5 separate regions of the Homo sapiens genome follow, and all the other regions are linked to region 1. The links come from fine-mapping of genetic effects on gene expression. A gene starts in region 1. Each other region holds a variant in brackets. All regions are shown on one strand. Distances are between the middles of the regions.

The links. PIP is the estimated chance that this variant, and not a neighbour inherited with it, causes the effect. A credible set is the group of variants that fine-mapping cannot tell apart.
Region 2: its variant is the best candidate, but not a certain one, in a credible set for the expression of RHOU in whole blood (INTERVAL, PIP 0.69).
Region 3: its variant is the best candidate, but not a certain one, in a credible set for the expression of RHOU in whole blood (TOPMed, PIP 0.54).
Region 4: its variant is the best candidate, but not a certain one, in a credible set for the expression of RHOU in whole blood (TOPMed, PIP 0.83).
Region 5: its variant is the best candidate, but not a certain one, in a credible set for the expression of RHOU in monocytes after LPS (Fairfax 2014, PIP 0.54).

Annotation. Positions count from the first base shown.
Region 1 is chr1:228,732,098-228,737,981 of GRCh38, forward strand. RHOU (ras homolog family member U) reads left to right here and starts at 3,382. Exons shown (of 3, transcript NM_021205.6): 1 at 3,382-3,907; 2 at 5,576-5,634. The coding sequence starts at 3,646.
Region 2 is chr1:228,762,633-228,768,516 of GRCh38, forward strand. No RefSeq gene overlaps it. Among named protein-coding and RNA genes, the nearest start is that of RHOU, 30 kb to the left of the region's middle. The variant C/T (reference allele first, on the strand shown) is at 3,059.
Region 3 is chr1:229,247,613-229,253,496 of GRCh38, forward strand. It overlaps TMEM78 (transmembrane protein 78), which reads left to right and starts at 2,024. Exons shown (of 1, transcript NR_172940.1): 1 at 2,024-4,198. All of the region lies in intron 1 of LOC102723935 (a long non-coding RNA gene), which reads right to left. It overlaps LOC124904540 (a long non-coding RNA gene), which reads left to right and starts at 5,738. Exons shown (of 2, transcript XR_007066924.1): 1 at 5,738-5,870. RefSeq lists an enhancer at 5,286-5,884. The variant T/A (reference allele first, on the strand shown) is at 2,878.
Region 4 is chr1:229,024,491-229,030,374 of GRCh38, forward strand. No RefSeq gene overlaps it. Among named protein-coding and RNA genes, the nearest start is that of LINC02815, 130 kb to the right of the region's middle. RefSeq lists an enhancer at 3,034-3,771. The variant C/T (reference allele first, on the strand shown) is at 3,401.
Region 5 is chr1:228,783,271-228,789,154 of GRCh38, forward strand. No RefSeq gene overlaps it. Among named protein-coding and RNA genes, the nearest start is that of RHOU, 51 kb to the left of the region's middle. The variant C/A (reference allele first, on the strand shown) is at 3,245.

The sequences.
Region 1 (5,884 bases):
TCTCCTTTTCTTTCTTTCTTTTTTGCAGAACCGTCAAGTTCAAAACATGTTTTCCTTTCACTTACGTATTTACCACTGCTTAAGTATTTATTAAGCACCTACTACTTGCCCCACGTGCTTCTAAGTGTGGGATATAGGAATGAGCAACATTAAGTTTCTGATTTCATGGAGCTTGTAAGAGGAGACAGACAATAAGCAAATAAACAAACAAATATATCATACAACTTGAACCCACACACCTTGGAGGGCTTCTTGTAGCATTAGTTCCAAGCATTTTAGATAAGGCTGTAGGGGACTGATTAAGTCGAGCCCAGAAACATGGACCCAAATGAGTGGGTGCGGGACAGTTCAACGTAAAAAGGGGTAAAGTAAAGGCATTCTGTAAAGGGGTAAAGTGGTAGGCATTCTGTCATCTCTCTGCTTTTGGACTTGGATGAAATACCGAACTGTTTGGCGTGGGGTCTGATTTCCTATGTTGCCTACAGAAGAGTCTCATGAATAGGGCAAACATTAGTTCCCGGCATTTTAGATAAGGATGCAGGGAGCTGACTAAGTTGTGTCCAGAAAAACGGGCCCAAATGAGTGGGCGTGGGATGATATTCAGCATGAGAAGGGGAAAAGCAAGAGGGGGACGCACAGGACACAAAAACTGACAGCTGGCCAGATGGAGGGGCAAAGCCAAGTTTTGTAGGGCCTGAGGCTTATCACATTTGTGAGACTTCATTAAGAAAAAAAAATACAAAATTAAGAATAGAAAATTAGATACAAAAACAAATGTTTAAAGTGAGAAATGCATCACAATAAGTTACAAATTTTAAAAGGCTAACAAACACCATAAACTTAAACAAAATACATAAGACATGACATTTTAATAAACTGCTTGACACACTTCTATGACATTATTTTCATTTTTCAGTTGCATACCCTTTGATCACTTCTTCAGTTTTGTAAGATATTTTCTATAAGAACAATAGGAAGTTACTTCACACACAGGTGAACTTGCTTTTTGTTGTACTACTACAGCCTCATGTCCTTACAAACATGGGAATTCAGATCATTCATTTCATGTGATTTTTCTCCAAAAATGTATGATGCATTTGTAAGTGTATCTGCTGCATTTAGAGTACAGGTACATTTCTGACAGCAGACAACTTCTGTTTTGATCAGGTTTAGTAGAGAGAACCAAACCTTCTCTAACAATGTTGTGTTTTCTTCTGTTTGTTTCTTTTTGAGACAGTGTCTCACTCTCGCCCAGGCTAGAGTATATTGGTTGATCAAGGGCTCACTGGAGCCTCGACTTCCCAGGCTCAAGTGATCCTCCTACCTCAGCCTCTGGAGTATTTGGATTACAGGTGTGAGTCACCACACCTGGCTAATTTTTTTATTTTTGGTAGAGACAGGGTTTCGCCATGTTGGCCAAGCTGGTCTCGAACTCGTGGCCTCAACCGGTCTGACTGCTTCAGCCCCCCAAAGTGTTGGGATTACAGGCGTGAGCCACCGCACCAGCCGATATTAGGTGCTTTATGATGGAAAGAATTGCCAGACTAGCTTCCAGCTCTGCCCATCTCAAGCTCTGCTACTCTTGCTACTGGAACCCTTCTAGTGTTGGGGAAAGTAAGACAGTTAAGGGCACCAATGTGACTCTCACAGAGGGTCATAGGTATGTCAGTGGTAGCCATTCCTATACCTGGATGGCTAGCAACAACATATCTACATAGGAGAACTGTAAACCACATAAATATATCCTGTCATCACAGCCAGGGCGAGGGAGAGGCAAGTCAGGTACCTGAGGCTCAAAACTTAACATTGGCACTTGCCTGACCCTGAGAGTAAGGGCCCTCTAAATTTGTTGTTTTTTGATATTGCCTCTGAATGCTCAATTTGTCATAAATTTTGCATCCTTGACATCCCCCTTATCTCACCTTCATCCTGATTCTGTATCCCATTACACCCAAACAACCTGTTTGGGTCTCCCCAACTTCACTTTCTTTGGCTGATCCCCAAAATCTTCATGGCCTCTTCAAAGTCACTCAATATGAGGGTAAGTTACAGTTTAAAAAGACAGTGAACATAACTGGTGGTGATTAAAATACTTTTTTTTTTTTCAAAATTTACAGAAACATATTACCACGTGTACACATTGCTAGGTCTTCCAATGTGAAAGTGTCCTTTGCAAGTCAGGGGTCCTGGATTCAAGCTTCTAACTTCTTGATAAATCCATCTCTGCATTCTGACCATGGCCATACGTTCAAGATTACGTTTATCATACTGACTTATTTTTGCCTCCAGGATTTTGGTTAGAAGCTCAGGCTCTGGGGCTAGACTATTTGGGTTTGGATCCTGGCATTGCCACTTACTAGCTTGTGGAATCCCAAAACGTTACTTAATATCTCTGTGCCTCAGGTGTTCTCATCTGTAAGTAATGTTAAGATTAAAAGAATTAGTTCTTGAAGAGTGCTTACAACAGTATCTGACACATTATGAAAGTTCAGTATTTGTTATTGTTATTTTTACTACCACTAGTATCAATGTGTATTAATAATATGTGGCCCTTCTCACACCACGCTGTACACCCCCAGGACTCTTGGTATTCTGACTTGGCTAAGAGGCGTCCTTTTTCTGAATAGACTGTTGACCACATGTAGAAGGAAGGCAGAGAGAGAAATGAATCAAAGGGAAACGGAATATTTTTTCAGACATATTAATGTCTCCGAATTACCTTTAAGTAAATGAAGGAATTGGGGGTATAAAAAAATTTCTGGAGCATACATGTATAAAGGTTCACGGCATGCCGAAAGACAAAGTCAAAGGAGCATTCACAATGGAGCTGGCATCCTTTTGCTTCAAAATGAGAAAAAATCACACGATCAGCTGCAGTTAGACTTAAGGAAAAAAGCTGTCTGTTAATTCAATCTCATTCGCAGGACAGGCCTCCAGGACACTTCATTTTTCCCCCTGGGTGGAGCCGTGGCCAGCCGGGGGCTCCACGGAGTGAATAGGAGGCGGCTCAGGCTTCCTGGCTCGCGTGGGCGCCAGAAAGCGGAACCTCCCGGGCCAGTCGCGCGGTGGTCACCCTCTTGGGAGCTGGGGAGGAGGCTGCGGAGGCTGGCCCGGCTCCTTCGGGCGTCGCTTCCCGGACCGGGTGCGCGGGGTCCCCCGGAACGTGTGTTCCAGGTCCTCCCGCGCCAGTGTTCGCAGTCCCCGCCTGGTCGCGGCGGCGCCTCGGGCGCGGGTGCAGGCGCGCGGCGCGCAGGCGGGGGGCGCTGTGGTCTTGGCGCGGGGACCGAGCCGCTCGGCCAGACCCGCCTCTTTTCCCTCCCCGCCAGCCCGCCCGCCTGCCCGCCCCCCACGCGTCGTGTCGCCGGGAAGCCGGGCGGAGACAGAGCGCTTGGGATCCACGGCGCTCGGACCGCTGTCCTCCAACAGCGCAGGGCAGAGCGGCTGGCGCCGCCGGAGCGCGGAGCCACGACCCTCCCTGGCCGCCTTTGTCTACTGGCCGTGCGGCCCGGAACCGCCACTCTCCAGGGCCGGGGACGCGCCCGCAGCTGTCGGTGACAGCTCCTCCCTACCGCAACCCTCCGGGGCGGAGGGGCGGTCGGGCCGGGCCCTGCTAGCCCGCGACCGCAAGCCCGCGCTCGCGGATCGATGCCCCCGCAGCAGGGGGACCCCGCGTTCCCCGACCGCTGCGAGGCGCCTCCGGTGCCGCCGCGTCGGGAGCGCGGTGGACGCGGGGGACGCGGGCCTGGGGAGCCGGGGGGCCGGGGGCGTGCGGGGGGTGCCGAGGGGCGCGGCGTCAAGTGCGTGCTGGTCGGCGACGGCGCGGTGGGCAAGACGAGCCTGGTGGTGAGCTACACCACCAACGGCTACCCCACCGAGTACATCCCTACTGCCTTCGACAACTTCTCCGGTGAGCTGGCCGGGGGGCCGGGGCCGGGGGCGCGTGGCCGCGGTCCACCCAGGGGAAGGAAGGTGGCGCGAGGGTCGCGAGGTTCCCAAGGGGGCTGCAGGGCCCCGGGCGCGGCTCCAGCTGGGAAGCCGGACAAATGAGGAGTGCAGGACGTTTCCTGAGTCTCAGGGACCGGGCAAGCGCGGAGCTAACACGAAAGGACCACGGCGGAGTGGGCTTGGAGAGAGGAGGGCGGAGCGGCAGTCAGAGCCTTGCCAAAAAAAAAAAAAAAAAAAATCTCACAATTTAAGCAACAGATAAGTAGGAGTGAAACAGGTTGAGTTCAGGGTGCCCGGTCAGTTTGTTGCATAGAGCAAAGTTTCCTGAGGGCGACGTCGCTGGCGCCGCTGCAGAGTTTCAATCAGAAGGTGACGCGCAGGTGCCTTTACCTGAGCGTCGCTCCTTTGCTTTTAGGCGGCTCAGCTCACAAGGGGCGTCTCCGCTTTAAAGAGCCGCGGAGACGCCGGGAAAACACTTGATTTAGTGAAAAAGCGCGAGCGGCCCTCGTGAAGGCTTAGGTTTGGATGAAACCTGAAGAGTAAACACCATTTCTTTCTTCTGAGCCCCACCACCTTCCCTGCCCACATGGGCTCGGATTCTGATTGTTGGTATCTTTTCAGGATCCCTTTAAGCTACTTAAAGCTCCTATGTACCGGGTGCGATGCCATTTCCCTTGGTAGATACAAAGAGAAAGGAATTCTCTATCTTGCTATTCAGGTCTTTTTGAAATTTAAGAAAAAGTTAAAATTCACAGAAACTAGTATGAAACACTTAACTGTCTTGCTTCTTTAAAAAAAAATTGCTTCTCTGACCTTCCTTTCATCCCAAAGGTACCTTAGAGAAATGGGTGCTGTACTGGTGGGTTCCCACCGCAGGGTATTGTTTCTTCCCCTCCCCCCACCCCACCCCTGCAGCTGACTAGTATAAATATTTAGAAACAATTAGAAAGTTGTGTAGAAAGAGACAAAACTGACTGCTTAATTAAAATAGAAACCTCCACAACATGTCCTGCTGCAGGCCTCTCCACACTCCCCGAGTCCCCGGATCCCAGTGGAAAGGGGGCCATGGCTTTCTTTTTTCTTTTTTAATCCTCCTTTTGACCTGACATAGAGATAAGGAGTGCCCTCATTTCTTAAACAGGACAATGCGGGCAGCCTGTGTTTGCACATGTTCTCAAAACACACTAGAATTGTATGATAAACCCTGAAGTTGGGGAACCTTTCCCAAGGGAAAACAGAATTATTTGTGAGGTTTTCCACTGATTTAAAACTGCAGGGTTGCTTCCCATTTACCCCCAGTGTTGTTTTTAGGTCCTTTGAAACAAGTGTGACAGGAAAATAAATCTTCCAGGACTGGGAGAAAAGCATAGGCCTTTTTAGGGTCACCATCAAAGCGTTCAGGGATTTGCTGCCTGGTTCACGGTAATGGAGTGACTTGCCAGCCGTGGGTTTGTATACAAAAATGCCTCCACAGGGCCTCCTTGTTTTTGGCTAGTCTTTAATTCATTAGAGGACCTAAAATAGGAGCAAAGGGGTTTGGAGTGAGAATGATAGTGAAAGCTAAAACTATTAGTATTCCGAAAGGGGTTAAAAGACACCTCCTGATTGTCATTTTGGTTTTGTTTTTAAGCGGTGGTGTCTGTGGATGGGCGGCCCGTGAGACTCCAACTCTGTGACACTGCCGGACAGGTCAGTATCACGTTACAGCTCAGTGCTGGGAAAGGAAACAGCCTTTTAAAGATTTCCAAATAACCTTTGATTCCCTCAGTCAGTAACTGGGTCATTCTAAAGCCTCATGAAGTGGACCCACCCCTGCTGTTGGCCCTTCTCTGAGGGTGGGCAGGGGCCAGGTTATTGGCCGGCAGGAAGCAGAGGAAGATACCTCCAAACTAATAAAGCAGGGTTTGGCCCAGCTCTGCGTAACCAGGCAAGGGAGGAA
Region 2 (5,884 bases), 31 kb after region 1:
TTTGAGTTGTTGGAAGCAATAGAAGTTATTGACTGACTGAAACATGCAGTGTGCTATATAATAGCGTTTGGTGAAGGCAGGACAGTTAATAGAAATGAGTGTCTAAGAGACAGGTACTGCTATTACTCCTATTTTTGCTGAAGAAATGGAGGCATGCAGAGTATAGGTAACCTACTCCAGGGAGCACAAGCAGTAGAATCAGAACTAGAACTGGAATTGGCCTCCCGTGGCCAAGTCTTGCAAACTTGATACTCTATTTAGGAGGGCTTTGCTCTTTTATTTGCTTACACAAATTTTAGGTGCTTAACAACATCAGAAACTCCCTTCTGAAGACAGTTTTCTGTGTGCAGCTTAAGGACAGGTTGATGGAAAGAAAAATCAGAGTTATCAGATTCTCCTTTAATATTAGCTGATTAATAAAGACATTGTTTAGAAGAGTAAGTTTTAGATAATAGTAATATGTGGTTGTTTTAAAAAGCCACAGTTCATTTGTATTCTGTTGTCAGTTACAATGCCTTCTATTTCAGGAACAACTGACTTCTGATCTGTTCGCGGATTCAGTAAGACCCTTGTTGAGAATGTCATGGGTGTCAAGCCCTGCACTAGACACTAGATACGGTCATGAAAAGATGCAGAGTGCACAGTGCCCGCTCTCTGAGAAACTATGCTTCTCTCGTTGCATTTTGTGCAGACCTGGATTTTCTCTTTGCCCCTCCAGACCCCTACTGACCCTGCTGTGTGGCCTGGAAGACTAACTTCTTCCCCCTTCATCTTTTAGATTTCTGCTTTTCACAAGGTTTGGTCTGCAGCAGGAACTGGGGAGATGGAAAAGGTGGAGAGAGGTTGGGGGTTTCTTGCCTGCTCCTTCCCTAAGAGAAATCTGTTTCTCTTCTAGAGTCTCAGATCCTGCAAGCAGCCCCTCTTCACAGCCAGATCTCTGAGTTCTCATATTTGTCCCCTGCCTGCCACTTCCCAACAGGCTGACGGGTGATAAAGGCCTCCCTTGTTGCTGATTCCTGGGGCTTTACCATAGCTTGTCAGTCTCCTCAATCCTGTGCTGGTTTCTCTAGATAGTCTGTCAATTTAAGTCCGTTCAGTGACCCCTTTGAGTGCGTCATCTCTTTCCAGCTGGGATGCTGACTGATAGAAGCATTGTAATCCCTCCAAAGTTACTGCTTTGCAGATGGTCTATAAATTCTGATGAAAAAAGAAATTCAAACCAAAGACAAAAAACTGAAGCAATGAAATACACTTGGGAGAAAGTAAAACTATAATGACATGCATGCTGACTGTACCCCAAGGAGAAAACAGGCCAGCACTGCCAGTACAGTTGACCCCTAAACAATGTGGGGTTTGGAGACCAACACCCCCACGCAGTGGAAAATCCATGTATGACTGCCCCAAAACTTAACTACTAATAGCCTACTGTTGACCAGAAGCCTTACCAATTAACATATATTTTGTATGTTATATGTATTATATATGGTATTCTTACAATAAAGTAAGCCAGAGAAAAGAAAATATTATTAAGAAAATCAAAAGGAAGAGAAAATATATTTATTATTTATTAAGTGGAAGTGGATCATCATAAAGGTCTTCCTTTTCTTCGCCTTGATGTTGAGTAGGCTGAGGAGGAGGAGGAAGAAGAGGGATTGGTCTTGATGTCTCAGGGGTGGCAGAAGCAGAAGAGGTGATGGAGGTGGAAGGGGAGGCAGGAGAGGCCAGTGCAGTCTGTGTAATTCGTATAGAAAAAAATCTGTGTGTAAGTGGACCTATGCAGTTCAAACCCCTGTTGTTCAAAGATCAGCTGTATAGCGTATTCCCATTCCGCCTACCAGAGTCCATCCCAAAAGAACTTCTTGTGTATGAATTATCAATGCATCATGTACTTGTGTAACCATGCAAACAGCATCCACTGCTAAACTACACAGTACACATTTCTATACATATATTTTATATAAACATATACTCTATATACATTTCACATAATTAAGAGTTAGAAGAATTGATTAGGTTTAGTAAAGAGGAAAGGCACCACCCAGGGCAAATGACTGCTGCATTTGGTCAGAGATTTCTCAGAGGACCAAACACACTTCGAGCTGTCGAAAGAGATATAAAGAATAAAGAAGGATGTTATGGGAAGAAGCTTTTGTTTCTGTGTAAGGAAAAACTTTATAACAGTGTGAGGTCCCAAAATAATTTTGTGGATTAACTATATGTTGTTTGCTCATAAGAATCACTTGACTTTGGCTTTTGGTTATATAACCTATTTGGTTCTTTAAAGAAAATTTTATGAGCTTAATTATGTGGCAAAAACAGCTTAAAAAAAAAGATTTTCTGGGCAATCCCTAATAGCCCTCTTAATATAAGGCATGCCCGTTTTAGCCCCCTCATCTGCTGAAGGCTGGATTTAAAGGAGCCTTTTCTTTCTATCTCTCTCTCTCTCTTTTTTTTTTTTTTGAAACACTATCTTGCTTAGTCAACCAGGCTGGAGTGCAGTGGCACCATCATAGTTCAGTGCAGCCTTGACTTCTCGGGCTCAAGTGATCCTCCCACCTCAGTCTCCAGAGTAGCTGCCACTACAGGAGCCACCATGACCTGCTAATTTTTTGATTTTTTTGTAGAGACAGTATCCTGCTGTGTTGCCTAGGCTGGTCTCTAACTCCTGAGCTCATGATCTTCCTGCCTTAGCCTCCCAAAGTGCTGGGATTACAGATGTGAGCCACTACACCCAGCCTTATAGAGCCTTAATGGAAAATGACATCTTGCCAGAAAAATGTAGGCATTAGTAGTCTTTTGCAACTGATAAGTGTGTCCTATTAAACAAAAACATAGTTCATAATGTATTAATATATAAGTAAATCTGCCAGAACACCGGCTCATAGTGCTATGTAAGTGCCTACTAGTATTTTTATTGTTGTTGTTACTTTGCTTTGACAACATCTCATCACATTACAGTTTTAGTTCCAGTGGGTCCTGTGTCACTCTTCCAGAGTGCAAGGTGCTCCGCCTGGGGCCTCTTCACTTTCAGGGACAGTTTGTCTCAACTCTCACCACC[C/T]CCACCCCATGGGAAGTCACACCTGGTCTCTACTTCTACAGAGAGGAGCAGAGTCTTCAGGGCGTGGCTGGCCCAGCTTCCTGGTTTCTGCCCCTCAGTGAGGCCTTGTTTCCTCTCCTGCAGCGCCCAGCTTGGGTTCCACCTCGAAGGCTACAGCAAGGCACCGACAGCCACAAGCGGTCACACGCAGACCTTCTACAGAACCTCACTCCAAGACAGGAGATAGAGATGAGGCTGGGGGAAAATTACCATTAGTCTCCAAAGTAAAAGGAAAGTGGGACTTTCTGTCTGCCAATTATGGTAGATCATTCACGTGACCCAACAGCCAGTTACAAATACTGTCACCAGTAACCTTAAACTAGAACGGACCATTAACACTACTCATTAGTTGTTTAAACTTTATGTAATAATTAAGTTGAATGCTTCTAATTTTGCAGTTTTTATTTTCTCAAAATATTTTCAAGTCTTTGTAAGATTCTCCTTGCTTATCACCTTCACATAGTATGAGGCTTATTTTTATTTTTGGTTCACATCAAAATGCAACTAATATTAATTTGTTATTGCAGTTATAATTTTTATATACACAACTTATTGCAGTGGGAAAGACCTGAGAGATTCCTAAATAGAAGGAAACTCAGAAGTCATTTTCCCAAAAAAATTGTAGAAACATTGCCTTTTCAAAGATATTAATTTATATTTTTATCAGTTTAAAAAGCAAATTACGGGTGGTTCATGCCTGTAATCTTAGCATTTTGGGAGGCTGAGGCAGGAGGATCAGTTGAGCCCAGGAGTTCAAGTCCAGCCTGGGGAACATAGCAAGACCCTGTTTCTATAAAAAATTAAAAAAAAAAAAAAACTATCTGGGCATGGTGGCACACACCTGTAGTCCCAGCTATTTTGGGAGACTGAGGCAGAAGGATCACTTGAGTCCAGGAGGTCAAGGCTGCAGTGAGCCATGCACTCTAGCCTGGGCAACAGAGTGAGACTCTGTTTCTAAAAAAAAGAAAAAGAATTGCAAAATGCCATCTAACTGATCACTTTCGAGCTGCTGACTTTAACAAAGAAACTTGTCCCTTGTTTAAGTCTGATGAAAAAGTTAATCCATCAGCAAAAAACCCTTCAGGAGTAAAAATATAATATCAATTTATTTGGGTTCAATTCAACCAATATTTGTTTATCATTTATTATGTACCAGGTACATTTCAAGGCACTGTAAATTTGGAGATGACTAAGGTGGCCCTGACCTCAGAAGCTCACAATTTCTCCCTGTGACAGGAAGCTAGACGAGGCACTCTAGTACAATGCTTGGATCTGCACTGGAACCTGGGGCATGGGGCCCTGAGAGAGTGCCACAGAGGCTGTTGGCTTCTTCTGAAGGGAGCTTGGGCTTATTCGGTCCCATGTCTGTCCCCTGTGAGAGACTAGATACTGCTTGAGGACGAGGGCCAAGTCTTTACTGCTCTTTATTCCTGCTGAAAGTTCAGGGATCAATTTATCTTTTTTATATAAAAGAAAGAGAAAAAGGGGGAGAGAGAGAGAAGGAGAAAGAGAAGAAGGATAAGGAGGAGAAGGAGAAAAGGAAGGAAGGAAGATGTTTTGGGCTGAATTGTGCACCCTCAAAATTCATACATTGAAGTCCTAACCACCAGTACCTCAGAGTATGACTCTATTTGGAAACAGGATTTTTAAAGAGGTAATTAAGGTAAAATGAGGTCATATGGGTAGCTCCTGATCTAGTAGGACTGGTAAGAAGGGGAGATTAGGACACAGACACACATGGAGGGAAGACCATGTAAGGACACAGGAGAAGGTGACCATCTGCAAACCAAGGAGGGAGGTCTCAGAAAAAAACCAAACCTGCCAACGCCTTGATCTCACACTTCTAGCCTCGAGGACTGTGAGGAATACATTTTTGTTGTTTAAGCCACCAAGTCAGTGGTGTTTATTATGGCAGCCCTGTCAAACTAATACAGAAAGAAGGAACATAAGAGGTCTTTCTTGAGTCAAACATTAAAGAATGAATGTGATTTTTTCTAAATTGAAAAAGGAAGAAGGAATGATTAATTTTGCCTGGAATAGGACAAGTCAGTAAAGATTTCATAGAGGAGATGACATTTGAGCCGGATCTTGAAGAGGTGCCAGAACTTGCCACTTGGAGAAGGAGACAAGAGGTTAAGGCAGAACAGGAAGAGTAACTCTATTACAAAGAATCGCAAGTACGTGGAAAACAGATCTAACAGGGATATCTGACGTGTGGAATTGAGGTGAAAGACTCATGGGAAATAAGACTGGACAGATAGATGAGGAAGGACCAGACTATGGAAGACCAGTGGTAGAACAAGAAGGTAGTTTACATAGAAAAAAGAACTGATCTGGTCTTCAGTTTAGAAACAGATACCTGGAGGAGAAGAGAAGGGTGAAGAGAGAGCAGGAGATTAGTCAGGATCTGTCACCGTGGTGTAGACAGAAGGGGAGGAGGCTCTGAGCTCGAGAGAGGGGGGCATGGGAATGAAAAGGTGAGTGCCAATGTCACATTGTGGGTGGAATCTCTAGAAATGATTGACCACAGCAGAAGCTGTGCTCAACAATCACACTAAGATTTTAAGCCAGGAAAGGGAAGATAACTGCACCAGGGGCAGAAATACAAAGTCAGGAGGAGGCACTGGCTATGATTGAGGGGAGATGATTTTATTTTAGATTTGAAGTGTGATAAAACTAATGTGTGTTGCAGTGATTAGGAGAGATCTGGAAGGAGAAGCTGCACTCTGGAAGAGGGTTTAGTGCCATCTGGACCCCAGTCTGTGGAGGCCACGTCATATCAGAGCA
Region 3 (5,884 bases), 520 kb after region 1:
ACTGCACTCCAGCCTGGGTGACAGAGTGAGACCCTGTCTCAAGAAAAAAAAAAAAAAAGACAAATCTATTGCTAGTAGCAAAAAGAAAATTTTTTTTGAAATATCTTAAATGTCCAATAATAGTAGATTAAATGTTTTGATATGTTCAAATAGAATACTATGTCATGATTTAAAATATCTTTATGGAAAAAATATTAGCATGGAAAAACATTCACCATAAAGTGTTCATGTGAAAGAAGTAGATTATGAAACAATACATACACTATATCCCAATAATGTGTGTGTGTGTGTGTGTGTGTGTGTGTGTGTAGAAGGCTAAAAAGCATATATTTCTGTTTTAGTCTGTGCTGCTGTAACAAAATATCACAGACTGGGTAATTTATCAACAATAGAAGTGTATTTGTCACAGTTGTGGAGACTGGGAAGCCCAAGATCAAGGCACCAGCATGTCTGATGTCTGCTGAGGGCTGCTCTCTGCTTCTGTGATGGCACCCTGTTGCTGAGGGAGAAGACAAACCCTGAGTCTTCACTTGGTGGAAGAGAAGAAGGGGCTGAACTGGCTCCCTCAAGTCCTTTTATGAGGCATTAATCCAATCATGCGAGCAGAGTCCTCACGGTCTAATCACCTCCTAAAGACCTCACCTCTTTCTTAATACTGTTACATTGGGGATTATCTTTCAACTCGAATTTTGGTTTTGTTTGTTTGTTTGTGACAGAGTCTCGTTCTGTCACCCAGGCTGGAGTGCAGTGGTGCAATCTCAGCTCACTGCAACCTCCGCCTCCCAGGTTCAAACGATTCTTGTGCCTCAGCCTCCTGAGTAGCTGGGATTACAGGCATGCACCGCCACGCCTGGCTAATTTTTTGTATTTTTAGTAGAGTTGGGGTTTCACCATGTTGGCCAGGCTGGTCTAGAACTCCTGAGCTCAGGCAATCCACCTGCCTCAGCCTCACAAAGTGCTGGGATTACAGGGGTGAGCCACCGCGCCCGGCCTCAGCATGAATTTTGGAAAAGACACAAACATTCAAGCCAAAGCAATATCCTTATGTTAATTCCAGTTATCTCTGACCATGGAATAATGGATAACTATAATTTTATTCTTTGTGCTTCTCTGTACAATCCAATTTCTCTCTACAATAAATATGTATTGCTTTCAGAATCAATGAAAATAAGTTGCATTTAAGAAAAAATTTTTCTCTTCTTCCCAGTTTGAAATACATTTTCTTTAAATTCAAGTCTACTGCCACATTAGGCAGGTTTTGTTTCTTTTTTGTTTGTTTAAATGAAACAAGTAACTGTTCAGCAAGTGGCTAAGAATAACCTCTCCAGGCAGTGGTAAGAAGTAGGAAGTAGGGAAAGAGAGAAAAGAGCTACTCAGGGTCAAAAGAGGCACCGACAGGGTTGGGGGTGGAGTTCAGAATGCCAGGTTAGCTGCCAAGGTACAGAGAGAGAAAGACAGAAACAGAGAGAAAAGGAGGGAGAGAGAGAGACAGAGCAGAGAGGGAGGGAGAGAAGAGAGCACACGTGTGTGCTTTGACCAGCAGGCCAGGATGGGGCTGTTTTCCTCTCCTGTGTCTGCCCCCACCTTGCAGGATCATTTGGAGTCATTGCAGGGCTAGCTTAGCTCTGCCTGAGTCACCCCCAACAGGTAAACTTCTACCAGCAGAGTCTCTCCTTTCGGTTAAAGAGTTGCTTATAGATCTCGTGGTTTTTCAGTTAACATCCTCAGGATCCCCACTTCAGCTCCCACCTTCTTTCCCAGGTCTGGCCTCCCTAGTCCCAGTTTTGGCTCCATCATCCTATTTCCTTCACTCCTTTCCTCCAGCTTCTTCCCAGCTTCTTCCCTTCGTGCATCTGCACCTCAGCTTCCCAGTGCTCTGTGTTCACTTTGCTCATCGCTCGGGCTTCAGCATCTCCCACTATGTTGGTTGATAATTCCCCACCAGAGAGCCACACACCCCTGAGGAAGAAGGGAGAAGCCAGAGGTTTCTGGAAAATCCAGGAGGCGGAGCAGGCTGGAATGGAAGGTAGAGACAACCATGAAAGTTGAACACGTCATCTGTGCAGGACCGTTCATACTGACATGTGGCTTGACACCAGAAATCTGGGTATTGTAATATCATGTTGGAAAGGAGTTTGTGTGCCTCAAACAACTACTCTAGAGATGTTTTACAATGACAATGATAGAGTAGAGGAATCTTCTAATTCCTACCAAATCAGAAGGGAATTCCTCCTTCCTGCCTGCCTGCCTGCCTTCCTTTCTTTCTCTACTTCCTTTTCTTTCTTTCTTTCCTTCCTTCCTCTCTCTCTTTCTCTCTTTCTTCCTTTCTTTCCTTCTTTCTTTCTTTCTCTCTCTCTCTCCCCTTCCTTCCTTCCTTCCTTCCTGAGACAAGGTCTTGCTCTGTCTCCCAGGCTAGAATGCGATGGTGCAATCATGATTCACTGCAGCCTCAACATCCCAGGCTCAAGTGATCCTCCCACCTCAGCCTCCTGAGTAGCTGGGACTACAGGGGCTTGCCACCACGCCCAGCTAATTTGCGTGTGTGTGTGTGTGTGTGTGTGTATGTGGTAGAGATGGGGTCTCACTATGTTGCCCAGCTGGTCTCAAACTCCTGGTCATAAGCAATCCTCCACCTCGGCCTCCCAAAGTGTTGGGATTACACGTGTGAGCCACCATGCCCAGTCTCTATTTCTTAATAGTGTCAGCAACTGAAAGATATAGAAAAGGAAGTCTGTTTGGTGTGTCTGTTGCCTCCCCAAAATCTTCAGCCTTTGTAGGACAGTGCATCCCACTGGGCAAAACCAGAGAATATTCTTTTGTGAGCCCGTAAGTAATTGTCTGCAATAGACATGCAGGGGCCTCTACTGTCATCTCTTA[T/A]GCAACTGAACTTCCTAAAAACTGTGGTGTTTATCTCTTCTGTTGCTCAGCACTGCTGGGACTGGGACTGCAAAAAACAAAAAAGCACCCAGGTTTACTGCCCTTAAAAAACTGACTGCTAGAGGAGATGAGCATATACATGACAGGATGTGATAAGATATTAAGCAGAATGTGATCAGAATCATAGGAAGTATATACAAAAGATGGGAACACTAATAGAGGTGACTACAACCACCTGCTTTGTAGAGGAGATGACATTCAAGCTGAGTTTTAAAGGATGAGTAGGAGTTGGCCAGAAATGGAGAGGGAGAATAAACCATGGGGAAGTAGTACACAGGCATGGCATGTTTAGAGCATTTTTGGAGCAGGGTAACCAGAATATACTGGAGGTTGCTAGTAGAGGAGATTGGAAAAGAAAGGGTCAGATTATTAATGGATTTACGTATTATGCAAAGAAGTTTATATTTGACCCTTTTTTTGACAATCTGGCATTTAGCCTTATCATAAAATAAAGATCTCTCAATGCTTCACATAGAAACTTCATCTGATCTCTTGAGGATCAAAAAATGGCTTTCTGGGTTTTTTTTCTTTCTCTCTCTCTTTTGTTTTTAATATCTCACATATACTTTAACCACCATAAATTCAAGTTTTCTCTTACTCAGACATGAGTTGCTTAACAATGGAATAATTCATTTCTTTATTTCTCAACATTGCCCTTTTGAAGGTTTTAGGTTTTAGGTTTTCTAAAACTCTGAATACTTTTGGCTATCATTATCCAGGGAAAGCCTGAAGACACTCCAAAGCACAAGGACAAAAGAGACCTTGTTAGATCTAATTAAGCGCTCCAGCACCAGGGGCACGGGGAGCAAGAGAAAAATACAGAGTCAGAAACTGAGCCGAGTTCTATGGTGGTACAGAGTGAGGCCTGCTTCACTGTGGGCTGGGGCTGGGGCAGGGAGGCCTTCATCTTGCTCTAAGCTGTGCAAAGTACCTCCCACGAGGCTAAGTATAGAGCTACTCAATAAAAATTATGCAATGTGGCTGGGCACGGTGGCTCACATCTGTAGTCCTAGCACTTTGGGAGGCTGAGGCAGGTGGATTGCCTGAGCTCAGGAGTTCGAGACCAGCTTGGGCAACACGGTGAAACCTCGTCTCTACTAAAATACAAAAAATTAGCTGTGCATGGCAGCATGTGCTTATAATCCCAGCTACTGGGGAGGCTGAGGCAGGAGAATCGCTTGAACCTGGGAGGCGGACGTTGCAGTGGGGCAAGATGGCGCCATTGCACTCCAGCCTGGGTGACAACGCGAGACTCCATCTCAAAAAAAAAAAATGCAATGCTTAATAAACTCTCTCTTATCCTGATCCTCCTTCCTCTCCTCCTCCTCCTCCCACCACCACGTCTCTCCTCATTCCAGGTGGCTTTAAATATCAACTGTATAATAAAGCCTCCAACGTGTATTTCCCCAACCTTGACCTCTCTTGACTCATACATCCATCTGCCAACTCAACATCCCTCTGTGATAGTTAACAAGCAGCTTATGCTCTACAAATCTTGATTTCTGCATCCTTCACGTGGCAGACGACATTGACCAAAGATGGGCACAATACCTCCTATCCCACATGTTCTTCTACAATGTGACATCGACACCCTCCCATCCAGGGCCAGGGTCCGTGTCTCCTTCCTTTGAACTCGGACCAATCTTCGTGACTCCTTCAAGCAATAAAGGACAGCAGAAATGAGACTATGGGAGTTCTGAGGCAAAGGCATGAAAATGTCACCTGCTTCATATCTTGTTTTCTTGGGAGGCCACTTTTGGAGCCCAGCCGCCATGCCATGAGGGAGTGAACCCCAACACGAGGAGGTGCAGGAGTTCTGGCTGACATCGCAGCTGACGGCCCAGCTGACAGCCAGCATCCACAGCCAGACGTGTGAGTAACAAGCCTCAGATGGCTCCAGCCAACCTTTGAGCTGCCCTAACTAATCTCACCTGCAGCCGTCCCCATCGAACCCTGCCCAGGCTGCAACTGGTGAGCAAATCAAATGATTGCTGATGTTTCATGCCACTAAGTGCAGGATGGTTGGTTTGTTTGTCACTCAGCAGTAGATAACTGAAACGCATCTGCCGAAAACCTTCTCTGATTATAGAGCCATTATCTACTCCACTGCTCAGGAAAAACCCCACTCTTCATCTCCCAGCAAATCCAGTGGATTCTGCCTTCAATTATATCCAGAATCCAGCCATTTCCTGTCACCTCCCTCCCCATCCCCCGCAAGCCTCTATCATCTTTCAGGATGGGCAACAGCCCCTAATGGCTCCCCACGTCTGGACTTTGTCCCTTACAGCCTAGTCTCCATGAGTCTTTAGCATCCTAGTGCCTCTTGTTAGTAACTGTCTTGTGCCCTATCCCTTAATCGCATCAGGTCTCACTCAGAATTTAAAAATAGAAAAATGCTTTCAGTGGCCTACAAGACCCCATATTCTGCCCTACACAGCCTGGTTCACTCCCCATTCCATTGATCTCCCTGCCCCGGCTGCTGTCCCTGCAGGCCCCATCAGTATGCTCCCATCTCAGGGTCTTTGTCTTCTGGAGGGCTCTTCCCCCAGATACCACAACCTTTGCTCCCTCCCTTCCCCTTCGGTCTGGGTACAAATGTCTCCTTATGGAAGAATCCTGCAGGCACCCTACTGAAAGCAGAACTATGGCTTCCCCCGCCCTCTCGCCCTCCAGGCAGGCCCAACCCCCCTCACCATTCGTTTTTTTCACTTACTTATCACCGCTGATGTGCTATATATTTACTTATTTGCCACATCTGTCTCCTCCCACATGCAAGTATTGCTCCATGAGGTCAGGAACTCTGCTTTCTTTACTGCTGCATCCCCGGGAACCCTAACAGCACCTGGAATTAATGAGCATGCAATGTGTACTTGCCGAGCAGATGTGAATGAATTACTTTGAAACTGACGCCAAAGGGCACCATCAACACAGAGGTGAGTGAGTCAGA
Region 4 (5,884 bases), 290 kb after region 1:
ATGGCCCCGGGCAAGTCTCCAGGTCTCCATTGCCTCACCTCTAAAGTGAACGTAGAGTCTAGAACGTAAGCCAGTGCGTGCTGACGGTCCCCACACCGCACTGCCAGGGGCCTCGGGCTCTGCTCTAGCAGCTTGGCCTGGACCACGGAGCTCTTTGACCAGGACCTGCTCCACCTGAGGCTGATGCCCTCATGGTGCTGCCTGGCCCAGCCACGCCCATGATCCTTTTCCAGGGTCCCGGAGAAGGAGAAGAACTTCCTTTCTGGTCCTTCCCATTCTGCTCCTGGGTTCAACCAAGCAGCTTCTAGGCAGCTCTGATGACTCAGCAGCAGTGACTCACAGGTTCCCAGGACAGCAGATGAATCCTCTGCTTCTCTGGCTCCCTCTCCGTCCCCTGGCTCTTCCTGGCAATGTGCTTTCACTCAGCCTTGGGCCCACTTTCCCATCCCTCTGGGGACATACCCCCTCGCTTGTCCTGAGACCCACAGTTGAGACCCACACCTGGGCTCCAGCCTCTCTACTGTTCTTTTTACTTCCCAAGCTGGCCCATGGTCCCTTCAGGCTCAGCTCTCCAGGGATCTGCTACCCCGTTCCTGCCTCCGGGACCCACTCCACCCTCCTGGCACTGGCTGGGTCCTGGTGGAGGAGCTACCACAGGCAGCAGAGAAGCAGAATTCTGCTGAGAGCTGTGACCCGAGGACACTGGGCCCCACCAAGCCCACGGTGCAGACCCTGGACTGCTAGAGAGGATGGCAGCACCATCCCCTCCAGGAAGAGCCACCAGGCCTGGAGGAAAACCTGCGCCTCTGAGAGCCTCAAAGGAGCTGTGCCAGTCAGAAGGTGCCGCTCAATGGTCCTGGTCCTCTGGGGGTGACAGGGTCACACTGCGAGCCGGACTTTACACAGCACATCAGTGTGAAGGATGCCAGCATCCTTGTCTGTCATCTTCCTAATTATGAGCCTGCTCAACCCCTCCCCAGCCACCTAGCTCATGCAGGGCCTTCGCTTCTTTGGGCCTTTCCCTCCTTCATGCCATGAGAAGTAAAGGCCAAGAAGGGTCGCAGGACATAGGCCCTGGGGGCTAGGAGCAACCGCCAGTGTGGATGTGTGCATACTAAACCCAGGGCAGGGCAAAGAGAAACACTAGGACCCAGAAACATCTGTCTCAGAAGTGCTTTCATCCTGCTGGGATACACTAAGGTACAGGCAGGAAGAAAGCCCCATGCCTGAAGGGGAAGCTACTGAAGACACAGCAGGTGGCTGAGCAGTGCCACAGGTGACAGCTCACTGCTGGGCTTGTTCCTGCACTACCTTCCCTGGTTTGTCCCCTGGGATGCTGGGGAAAGAAATTATGTTGGGATTTTTTCTATAAATAATTTCCTGTCATTGTGTGTAATGATTGGCGAATAATTTCACAACAACTGGCTGTTTCTTTGTTGCATTCTAAACTTGAGCAGCACTGTGGATCATCAGCATTTTCTGTCTCCCCGCCATTTGAAAAGAACAGTTTCCTGGGACAATTCCTTGAGCCCAGGTCGAGGCTGCGGTGAGCTATGATCACGCCACTGCTCTCCAGCCTGGGTGACGAAGTGAGACTCCATCTCTAAAATATAAATAAATAAATAAATAGCAAAATGTTTCCCTTTCTCCATAAGAAAAATGCTTTTAAAAATTTCTCCTCAGATGCAAACATGTTAAACCCAAGTAAATGTCCCTTCACCTGGGTAGGCCTCAAAGGAAAAGTTTCAGCCACCTGAAATGCCAGTTAGCTGGTCAGCCTGTAAGACGCTTGTTTATTTGTAAAGAAATAGCCCATTCTGCGCAGTCTCAACAGTGGCCCTGGGAAACGGCAGCCCTGCTTTTATTTTTAAACCTCAAAGTTCATCTTAGAGATAAAGCTTTCTTTTCTCATGAGAGGCTGAGTGTCGTACATGGGTATGAAGGTGTAACATAGGCCTTAGACAATCATTTGTAACCTTAGAGGCAACAGGAACATTCAGAGCTGCCTGCCAGGCCCAGACACTCAAAGTGCTACAAAGTCGCCGATCTTTGTGCTTTGGGAGATCAAGTAGTTCCCTTCCCCAGGGCTATATTTCAACCAGGGTTGAGTTCATCTTTGTGCTTGTTTTTTCCCAAATAGCTCACTTTCTGATTTTTTTGGCTTAATAGTGAGATTATTTAAGAGGCACCAAAAGAAAAAGCTCAGTGAAAAAATTGTTTTAGCAATAGAATGAGTTAGTATGAATCCCAGTGCTCATCATAATATTGACTGTTATACACATAAAATACGAATGGCGAAAGAATAAGAGGGGTTCCTTTTTTCTTCTTCTTCTTCTCGAGATGGAGTCTTGCTCTGTCGCCCAGGCTGGAGTGCAATGGCACGATCTCAGCTCACTGCAACCTCCGCCTCCTGGATTCAAGTGATTCTCCTTCCTCAGCCTCCCGAGTAGCTGGGATTACAGGCGTGTGCCACCACACCCTGCTAATTTTTTGTATTTTTAGTAGAGACAGGGTTTCACCACATTGGCCAGGCTGGTCTCAAACTCCTGATCTCGTGATCCACCCACCTCGGCCTCCCAAAGTGCTGGGATTATAGGTGTGAGCCACTGCGCCTGGCCAAGACGGGTTCTTTAACAGTGGAAATAGAAACGTCATCTTCTGCAACGCTGAGCATCTGCAAAGCCCCCCACAGACAGTCTACTCAGGTGAGAACTGAATTTCCTCCCAGAACACTCTCTCCATTGTCATCCTTCCTTCCCCGATCCCAGGTGAATACATGTGGCACAGAGCCCCTCAAAGAGGCCTTCCATTCCCTTGTCCACTAATTTGATTTTCAGAATGTGGAGCCACGTGCCCCCTGGGGCCTGGCCTCTGCTCCCTGCTGCAGGTGCAGAAGCAAACAGACCATGGGGCCATGAAGTTTAACAGGCTGCCCAGGCCCGGGCACTCAGACCCTGCTGCTTCTCCCACCTCCCACCTCGCACCTCCCCACAGCCTTTTCTATCACACAGCCAAGGATTCCTGTTCCCCATCCTCTGTTGCTTATCATTTCTCCTGACCCACGCACAGAAGGGACTCTATTTCTAGGAGCATCAGAGAGAAGCTTTCAAACTTTTTTGCTCATGACCCACAGCAAAAAGTGCATTTTCTGTTGCAATTAAGTGCACATGCACACACAGCTGACTCACATCTAAGTCAAAAGTTTCAGGAAGCAATACTTCCTTTCACTACCTGCAAAGCCTTCTGTTACTTTCTGTTCTACTCTTCCCAGGCCGCACCACCCCCCACATTTCAACAATGCTCGTTGAAATCCACGAAACTGATTTCCCAATCCCCTAACGGTTTATGGTCAGCAATTTGGAAAACACTGGCTGAAATACTAATGAAAGGGCATCGCGGG[C/T]CTTCCCTGATGCGAGGGGAGGAAGGAAGGCTTTGCTCAGCTCTACGTTCCCACAGACCCACTTTTCCTGCCCTTTGCCCCACATCCCACCTGCCACTTGTGATTAAATAACAGTTTAACATCACCAAAGCTCCCTTTCACTCAAGAACTAACTCAATTAGGCTTGAGCTGGTGGGAGCTTAAAGCAGATTAAGGGAAGACAAAGGAGGCTTTGGGGTTTATCTTCAGCTTTCATGTTCCTAGGAGCTCTCTCTTCCTGTGCTGAGTCTTAAGCATCAAAGGGAGGGAGGCAGGGAAGGAGAGGAGAGGGGAGGGGAGGGGAGGGGAGGGGAGGGGAGGGGAGGGGAGGAGAGGAGAGGAGAGGAGAGGAGAGGAGAGGAGAGGAGAGGAGGATGGAAGGAAGGAAGGGGAGGGAGGAAGGAAGGAATGAAGGAAAGGATGAAAGGAAGGAAGGAGAGGAGAATGGAAGGGAGGAAGGGGAGGGAGGAAGAGAAGAAAGAGAAGAAAACTCTCCCAAGCCCCCATCATGGGCTGAGGCCAACCAGCACTGCACTGGTCACCCCCACTTTTATTTTTAAACTTCAAAGTGCATCTTGGAGATAAGGCTCTCTTTTCCCATGAGATGCTGAGGGCTGTGTTTGGGTGTGCAGGAATAACGTAGGCCTTAGACAATTACTTGTAACCTTAGAGGTACTGGGAGGGTTCCGGGCTGTGCTGGGCCCAGATACTCAAAGTGCTTCCTGAGGAAGATGTCCGTGGTTCAGCTCAGGGATGGGCACTGCTCCCCACGCTCCTCCAATGGGGCAGCTCCCTGCTCCGACCCCACCTCCCACCTCCCCCAGCAGCTCAGACAGCCATCTGTGCGGCAGATGAGCTGCACACAGAAGGTGCTCGGCAAACACTTGCCGAATCCCCTGAAATGGTCCATCTGGGCCCCTTTACAAATCGAATTCTTTCTAGATCAGTGGCGCCCAACAGAATTATAATGTGAGCCACACACGTCATCTTACATTTTCTAGTGGCTAACTAAGAAGTAATAATAATAAAAAGAAACAGGTGAAATTAACTTTAGCAATATACTTTGTATATAAAAATCATTATCATTCCAACATGTAATCGTATAAAATTTGTAAGATTTTTATAGTCTCTTTTTCTAGTACCAAGGGCTTGAAATTCAGTGTCAGTTTGGAATTGCCACATTTAGAGTGCTCAGTAGCCGCATGGGGCTTGCAGCTACCACCCTGAGCTGCAGCTCTGAACTCTAACCAGGACTCGGGGCAACTGGGGCCCAGGCTGGAGCTCAGCTCAGAAGGAAGGTGCTAGGTGGAGTCCTCCAGCCACAAGTCACAAAGCAGACTGTGTTGGGGGGCCTTTGCCACTGCACCCCCCTCCCCACCGTCCTCACTTGCCTTCCCCACCTGGCACTGTATCTGGTGGGAGGAGATGGGCAGGGCGTGGGAACAGAAGGAATGGATGAGGACTTAGAGATGTGTGAGCAGCTCTCACAGCCATACACTGCCCCTGCTGGGGAGTCCATGTGGACCCCTCAGCTGGGACTGACCCCATCACCTGTAGTGAGACACACCAAGAAACACGCCCCATCAACACAAAAATGTCTGCTAGGCCAAATCTGGCACAAGCTTAGTGACAGCTGAGTTAAATTACTGTATCCATGGTGCAGTCACCAAATACTTGCAGCCCTCAATCATTTTCAGCTGTCTTTTTGGGGACAACAGAGACATATACAGATTGTCAATTCAACATGAGCTCATTTTATTAGACGCAATCAGCCATATGGCACTTTGCGACCAGTAGACGTGCTCCTTTGACAATCAGTGTTATTGAGCCTGCTCAGTAATGAGTTAGCTACTGGTCTTGTCTTCCCTTAGAAGAATCCATTTAACTCCTATGAGTGAGTCAGCTTTTTCCTAAGTGACATCTTTGAGGGGAATGCAATGCCAGCTTGTCACATGCCAGGCTCTGGCGCTCAGTTCCAGAATGTTAGAGCTGGGAAGGTCTTGGTTCTCTCCTAGTCCTGTGGCTTTTGAGCTTTACTTTCTAAGTGCAAAACTTTCTTTCAAATGAAATCTTATGGGGAGGCCTGACTAAGACAGATTCTTCTGTAGGAGCTGGAAGGACAGCACAGAGCTCTCCCTCCCTTCCTCCTCCCCAGGCACCTCTGTGTGGTCAGGGTTTATTAGAAAACCAGCAACGCTAGGCAAGCCACTCATTGTACACATCTTAAAAGCAGGACCCAGAGCAGCTGTGTGTGATATAGTCACACTGTGCCATGACAGAGCCAGGGTTGGAATTCCACTCTCAGATTCTAAGACCTCTACTATTATTATTATTATTATTATTATTTGAGATGGGATCTTGCTATGTTGCCCAGACTAAAGTGCAGTGGCCCTTACAAAGATCTCTATTTTAGTATTTCCAGAGAGTTCCATGGAAGATCTTTGAAAGATACAAATGGTCCCACAT
Region 5 (5,884 bases), 51 kb after region 1:
TTTCCGCCTCTATTGAGTGGGTGAGGTCTTGCCTCCCTTTCTCGTGCAACTCTTTTAGTGGTTTACAACCTGCAGTCTCTCTGCTCCGTGTCCACAGAGCACAGGAAGCCAACAGCCAGGAGCAGCCTCTGGCATCAGAGGGAGTGGGTTCAAAGTCCAATTCTGCTACTTTCTAGCTGATAAACTGCTTAGCTCCCTGTCCATAAGTGGGCTTGATAGTAAGTGCTTATTACTTCCCAACGACGGGGAGATGCACACAAGCATCTAATGTGGTGGGTGGTACTAGATCGCCATGATTACCTCTGCAGCCACTTTTGGACGCTCGATGCAGCCACATTAGACACTGACCGAGGCCACTGCACACAGACCGGGTGCTGGGTATTGCGGGAACCAAGGAGCAAGCCAGCCAGTCCTGGGGCTCCGTCAGCATCTGGTCCACTGGAGAAGCAGATACATCTCTGGGCCTCATTATGGTCCATCTCTGCTTGGACTTTACATCCTCCACCACCTCACACTCAGCACATTCCAAGCTGAGGATGTTGTAACCTCCCCAAGCCCGCTTCCCCCAGGCTTCCTGCTGTGTCATCAATATCTTCACTTTCCTAGGAACCCAGGCTCCACATGTGGCCTCAGTAACCCCTCCTCTACTTCACACCTTCTGTACCATCGGGAGACCCCAGGGATTCAGCCTTTCATGGAGTGTCTCCCTGCCTGTCACAGTCCTCTTGCAACCCATCCTGCTGAAGATGTGATTTGTTTTAGCCTGGGGAAGAGCAGAGCTGCCTCCTGTGCCAGATAACCCTTGCTAACACATGGCTTTTAACATGCTCCTCACCTGCCCCAACCCAATGGTCCACAGAAAGTTGTGGCTATCTCTCCTCCCTCCAGTTCTGGCATGCTTTTCCTGCCTCATCCCTACTATTCCATGAATGAACCCCACATTTAAGGTAGGGTTTTCTCCCTTGCTGTATCCAAGTCAATCTAGACCTAGTGGCCCAGTTCTATTGACCAGCTGTCCCTGAATTTTCGAGGCCAATTCTTGCATTCTGTGACGAAACTGGTTGTAATCTCTCATACCCCGGGGCACCAGCCTCTACCTTTATGATCTTCTAGACTCTGGAATTCAGGAATGACTTAAGGCCACTTAAAACCACACCCTCCCTTGCCCTCACCTTCCATCTCCTCCCAGGGCACCATATGGCAATTGTTCTACATTCCCTCCAAGATTCCTCCTCCCAAGCCTAGGCCCATATGAATTTTCACTTAGCTCCAGAATCCCCCTTCAGCCATGTATCCCCCAACCAGGTAAGCACTCAGTGGCTCACTTCTGCTGAGTCCTGCGGCGTCGGCATCAACCCTGTTCCCCAGGCCTTCCTTGGTCATGCACCAACCTCCCATCTGAGGCACTCTGGTGCACAGCTCATATTTTGCATTCCCTTCCCTGTGGGCTAGGGCAGTGTTTCTCCCACTTTACAAACTCAGGCTCCCTTTTAATAAGCCTAAGGCCCTCCCCTGCTGCACCATGGAAATGAGCGATGTAGTCTGTACAGGTCTGTGTTGTAACCTCCTCTGCCTCCCTTGCAGGCACCCCTGTTGCTCCTTCCCAAGCCCCTGCTTCCCACCACACCAGTCAAGGCTGCACTCCCCTGGGGCTCTGTAGTTTTTTTTGTAGCATGTACCATAGTCGTGCTTAAATAATTATTGAACTACTTGTGATGAGTTGTTTAATGTGTCTGCTGCATCACAACATCAGCTTTGTGAAGTCAGGGGTTCAGTTTTGTTCGCCTTCGTATCCCCAGCACCTGGCCTACCTATTCCAAGCAAAATCCAGCTCCCTAAAAATACCCTCCTACAACCTGTCAATAAGCTGAAGTTATTCATTGCTTACTGTGGTCTGGGAGAGCCCTGCCCTGATAGTCTGAATAGCAGCATCTCAGATGGGGCATCCAAGTCGGGGTACTTATGAGGCTTTGGGGTTGGGTTTTAGAGGCTGTTCAGTGCAGCAGGGGAGGGGTTTATAGTATGAGGATTGGTGGATGCGGTAATGTGAGGGTTTTGAGGCAAGGGATTCAAAGAACCTTGAGGTATAAATAGTCACTGATGCTATCTATTGAAAAGTCTCATCGTTTAATGATCATTTGAATGAATTCTTCCAGAAAGTTCCTGAAACAAACAAAGTTATTTGCAGCTTTTATTTTCCTGGACAAGTGTTTCATGTAAGAGCAAAGTCACGTTAATGTAGACAGTAAGCTTCAAGGGTGCAGATGATTTGCGTTCTCAGAGTGAACAATTCCAGATGTTGCCCAATCTCCCAAACTCCTAGAACTGCATGTGTGAAGTTTCAGGATGGCCAACGCCTGCCAGGTCGTGCATTATTTCTGAGCAGCCCCAAGGAAGGCTTGCATTTGAGTGTGAACCTCTGCTTCTCGTGCCCCTTCTGTCCTGTCCTGTCCCATCCCATAAGAGGGCCCTTTCTCTCAGCTGCAGTGTAGACAGTACTCTGGTACTGACGTCCCTGAAATGCTACTAAGCCAGTAAGGAAAGCTGGGTGGGTGTGGAGATGGAGAGCACAACTTGGAGCTGAGTGTGTGGGGGATGTGGCTGCTCTGAGGCTTCCCCGTCAAGCGTCTCTGCCATGATGTAGCCACACCACGCATCACTGTTCAGCCTCCTCCTTAGCACCAGGGCCTACACTTTCTCGCAGCCTAGGCTGATATAATAATAACCTTAGACAAATTTAACAGAGTTTAACTGAGCAAAGAACGATTCACAAGTTGGGCAGCTGCTGAACCAGGAGGAGTTCACAGAGGCCCTGGCACTGCCCTGTGATCAAAGATTATTCATAGACAGAAAACGGAAAGTGATGTACAGAAAACAGAAGTGAGGTATAGGAACAGCCGGATTGGTTACAGCCTGGTGTTCGCCTTATTTGATCCTGGTTTGAACAGTTGGTTGCCTTTGATTGACCAAAACTCAGGGATTGGCATAAGAGTAGGCTACAGTTCATTTACATATCCAGTTTGGTTGCAGTTCATATGTACAGAGAAACCTTTAGGCCAAACCTAAAATATGTTGGGAGGTAGATTTAGGTGAAGCTTAACAAGGCCTCCCTATCTCACTCTCCCCATCACAAAAGCAAAACAAGAACTCCTGAGATCTTCAGATCGAGCAGAGCGATTTTGCTCCTTTTAGTCTTCTCTCATCTCTAATCTTCTGCAAAAACAAAATGTCCATTGACGTATTT[C/A]CCCAAAGAAAAAATAGTTCCCTCTCTAAAAGGAATTCTATTGTTATCTTAGACAGCAAACAATTCATTTTCCCCACCCCACCTGCATAAATAGAAATTCCATCAGTGGTTGAAAATATTAGGTTGAATCATATGAAATACTCATTTTGTCAGTCAGAAATAGTCAAATAGCAACAATCTCATATCCCCTAGAGTAAAAAATATGTAAAATACTAAGATAATGAATTAATTTGATTATTCTAGGGAATTGTATTCCTATGACTGAACCCAAAGAATTCTAGCAATAAGACTGAAAATAATTTTTTATTGCTGTCAGTAAAAACCATAAGGACAAGGAATAATTTCATTACCCAGAAAGATGGTGTAATAACTGAAACTAATTATGGAGGAAGCTGGTTATATTTCACCCACTGGCATCTCAGTGGGGAACTGTCTGTACTGGGAAATCAAACTGGAGTTGAAAACTGGTATCTGATTTCTACTTTAACCAGGGTTCATGGTGTCAGTTGGAAAGGCAGGCAGGGACTGAATCAAATTTGCAGATCCCCAGGTCAGAGGCAGAATGATAGCCTAACAGAGACAGAGGACTTCCTATGAGCCCCAGTCCTGGACGGTGTTCTAAGTGCCTTGCCGGTAGTATTTATACTCCCTGAGGAAACAGGCACTGAGCAATAAAATGATTTGCTTGGGGTCCCACAACAATAGACAGTGGAGCCTTCTAGCTGCAGGTCCCAGGCTCTTAGACACCATGCTCAACTGCTCTGTTCTTTCAGGGCACCCCACAAAGACACTTGCCCCGAAGGCCAGGGGGGAGAGGGGAATGGTAGTGAGAAAAAAAGGTATTCAGTATTAAGGAAAGAAATGATTTTCACAGTTACCTTTGAAATGGTAATTGGAAAATCTGACCAAGGATGTTGGTCAGATCAACACCCTTGCAGATGGAGCAGGCAGGAGGTTGCACTCTAGCAAGCATGGGGTAGGGTCAGCGAGTTCTTGATCATGCCATGAGAAACTGGCATGGCACTCAGCTGCCATCTGGGGTAGACATGCCCCACTCCTTGGGAACCCAGATCTAGACAACTGCCAACTTTTTCAGAGAATTATGCAGTCTCCTTTTTACGTAGGATGTGTTTTACTGTAATGTACATCCTATTTCCTCTTAGAGATGATCTGCCTGCTTCAGTCCCATTCTCCTCTTAGTATTCTTTTTCATTCTGGGATATGAATAAGAAATTGGATTTAGGCACCAAAGTTCTCACTTGTAGCCCTAATCCTACCAACTATTCCTGGTGCTAGCTTTGAAGCATTCTTTCGGAGCATCAACAGAGGCTCAAATTTCTCCAATCCTAAGTACAACAGCACAGAAATGTCCGCTGTTGCTACTGTTTTATTTGTGGTCTTACCTTCTCTACCAGCATTGAGAACAATGAATCTGTCCTTGCTCTCCCCTCTTCATCACCTCCAGCTCAAGACCCATCTACCCACAGTGCACTCAGTCACGACACTCAACCTTGCTTGTCCAACGTCACCAGTGAGCTCCCTTTGGCCAGTCCAGGGGACGCCTCTCAGTCCTCTCTTCCACATTTGGCCTTGTCATTCACTCCTCTACCCTGGCTTCTGACATGGCTTCCATCTCTGCTTCTACATTTCTGGCCATTTCTCCCTGGCCTTGAGTGTGGCATGAGCTCTCCTCACTGTACTGTCTCATGGGGCGGTGGTGCCCATTCTCAGTTTAAATTTCCATCTCGGATCTATCTTCTCTGAGTTTCATACTCACATTTCTAGCTGTGCCTCTTAAATGTCTCATAGACCTGTCAAATGCAACATGTTCAAAACCCAAGTCACCATTTTCCCAAGATCCGCTCCTCCTTCGATATTACCTGCCTCTGTCAAAGATGTCCCCAGACCATAAACTCAGGTCATCTAGAACCATTCCTTTTTTTTTTAATTCTCACATTCACTCTTCACCTCCTAAATATTTTCCAGTCCAATTCCATCCCTTTCTCCCACCCTCCTGCTCCTGCCATCTCTCTCCTGTCTAGGGTATTTAGCCTCTTGACTGATCTATCTCTTGTTTTACTCTGTTCAACTCCATTTTCCCAATAGTTATCTGAGTGATGATGGCTGTATCTTAAATAAAATCTGCCAAGTCACACCCTTGCTGAAGCCCTAATATTGTTCCCGAGCAAACTTTTTACTGTGACAGCCCTGCCTGGTGCCGACTTCCCTGCTCAGCTGCCCTCTGTCCTCTGTGCTCCGCTGTGCTGCAGGCAGTTACCGCCATTTCCACAGCGCTCTAATGGGGCCCGCTCTCATCCTTTTGCTCTGGACTTTGTGTCTTGGGCGCCATGTGTTCTCAGGCCCTCATTGTCAAGTCATCTCCCTGGTCTTTTAGGTTGTGTCCTGGAGTCTCCTTGTCCAGGGCAGATTCTCCACTGCTCCCCCATCCTTCATCCACTCTTCAGCCCCACTGCCCAGCACAGCCTGTCTCACAGCTCCTGTTGCTCAGTGGCCAAATGATCTATTTACGAGTGTGTCTTTTTCCGACTGGACTACAGATACCAGCCGGACAGGGGATCTTGTCCTATTTATCCTTGCATTCTCAGTACTTTGAGTATAGTTGACCCTTGAACAACATGC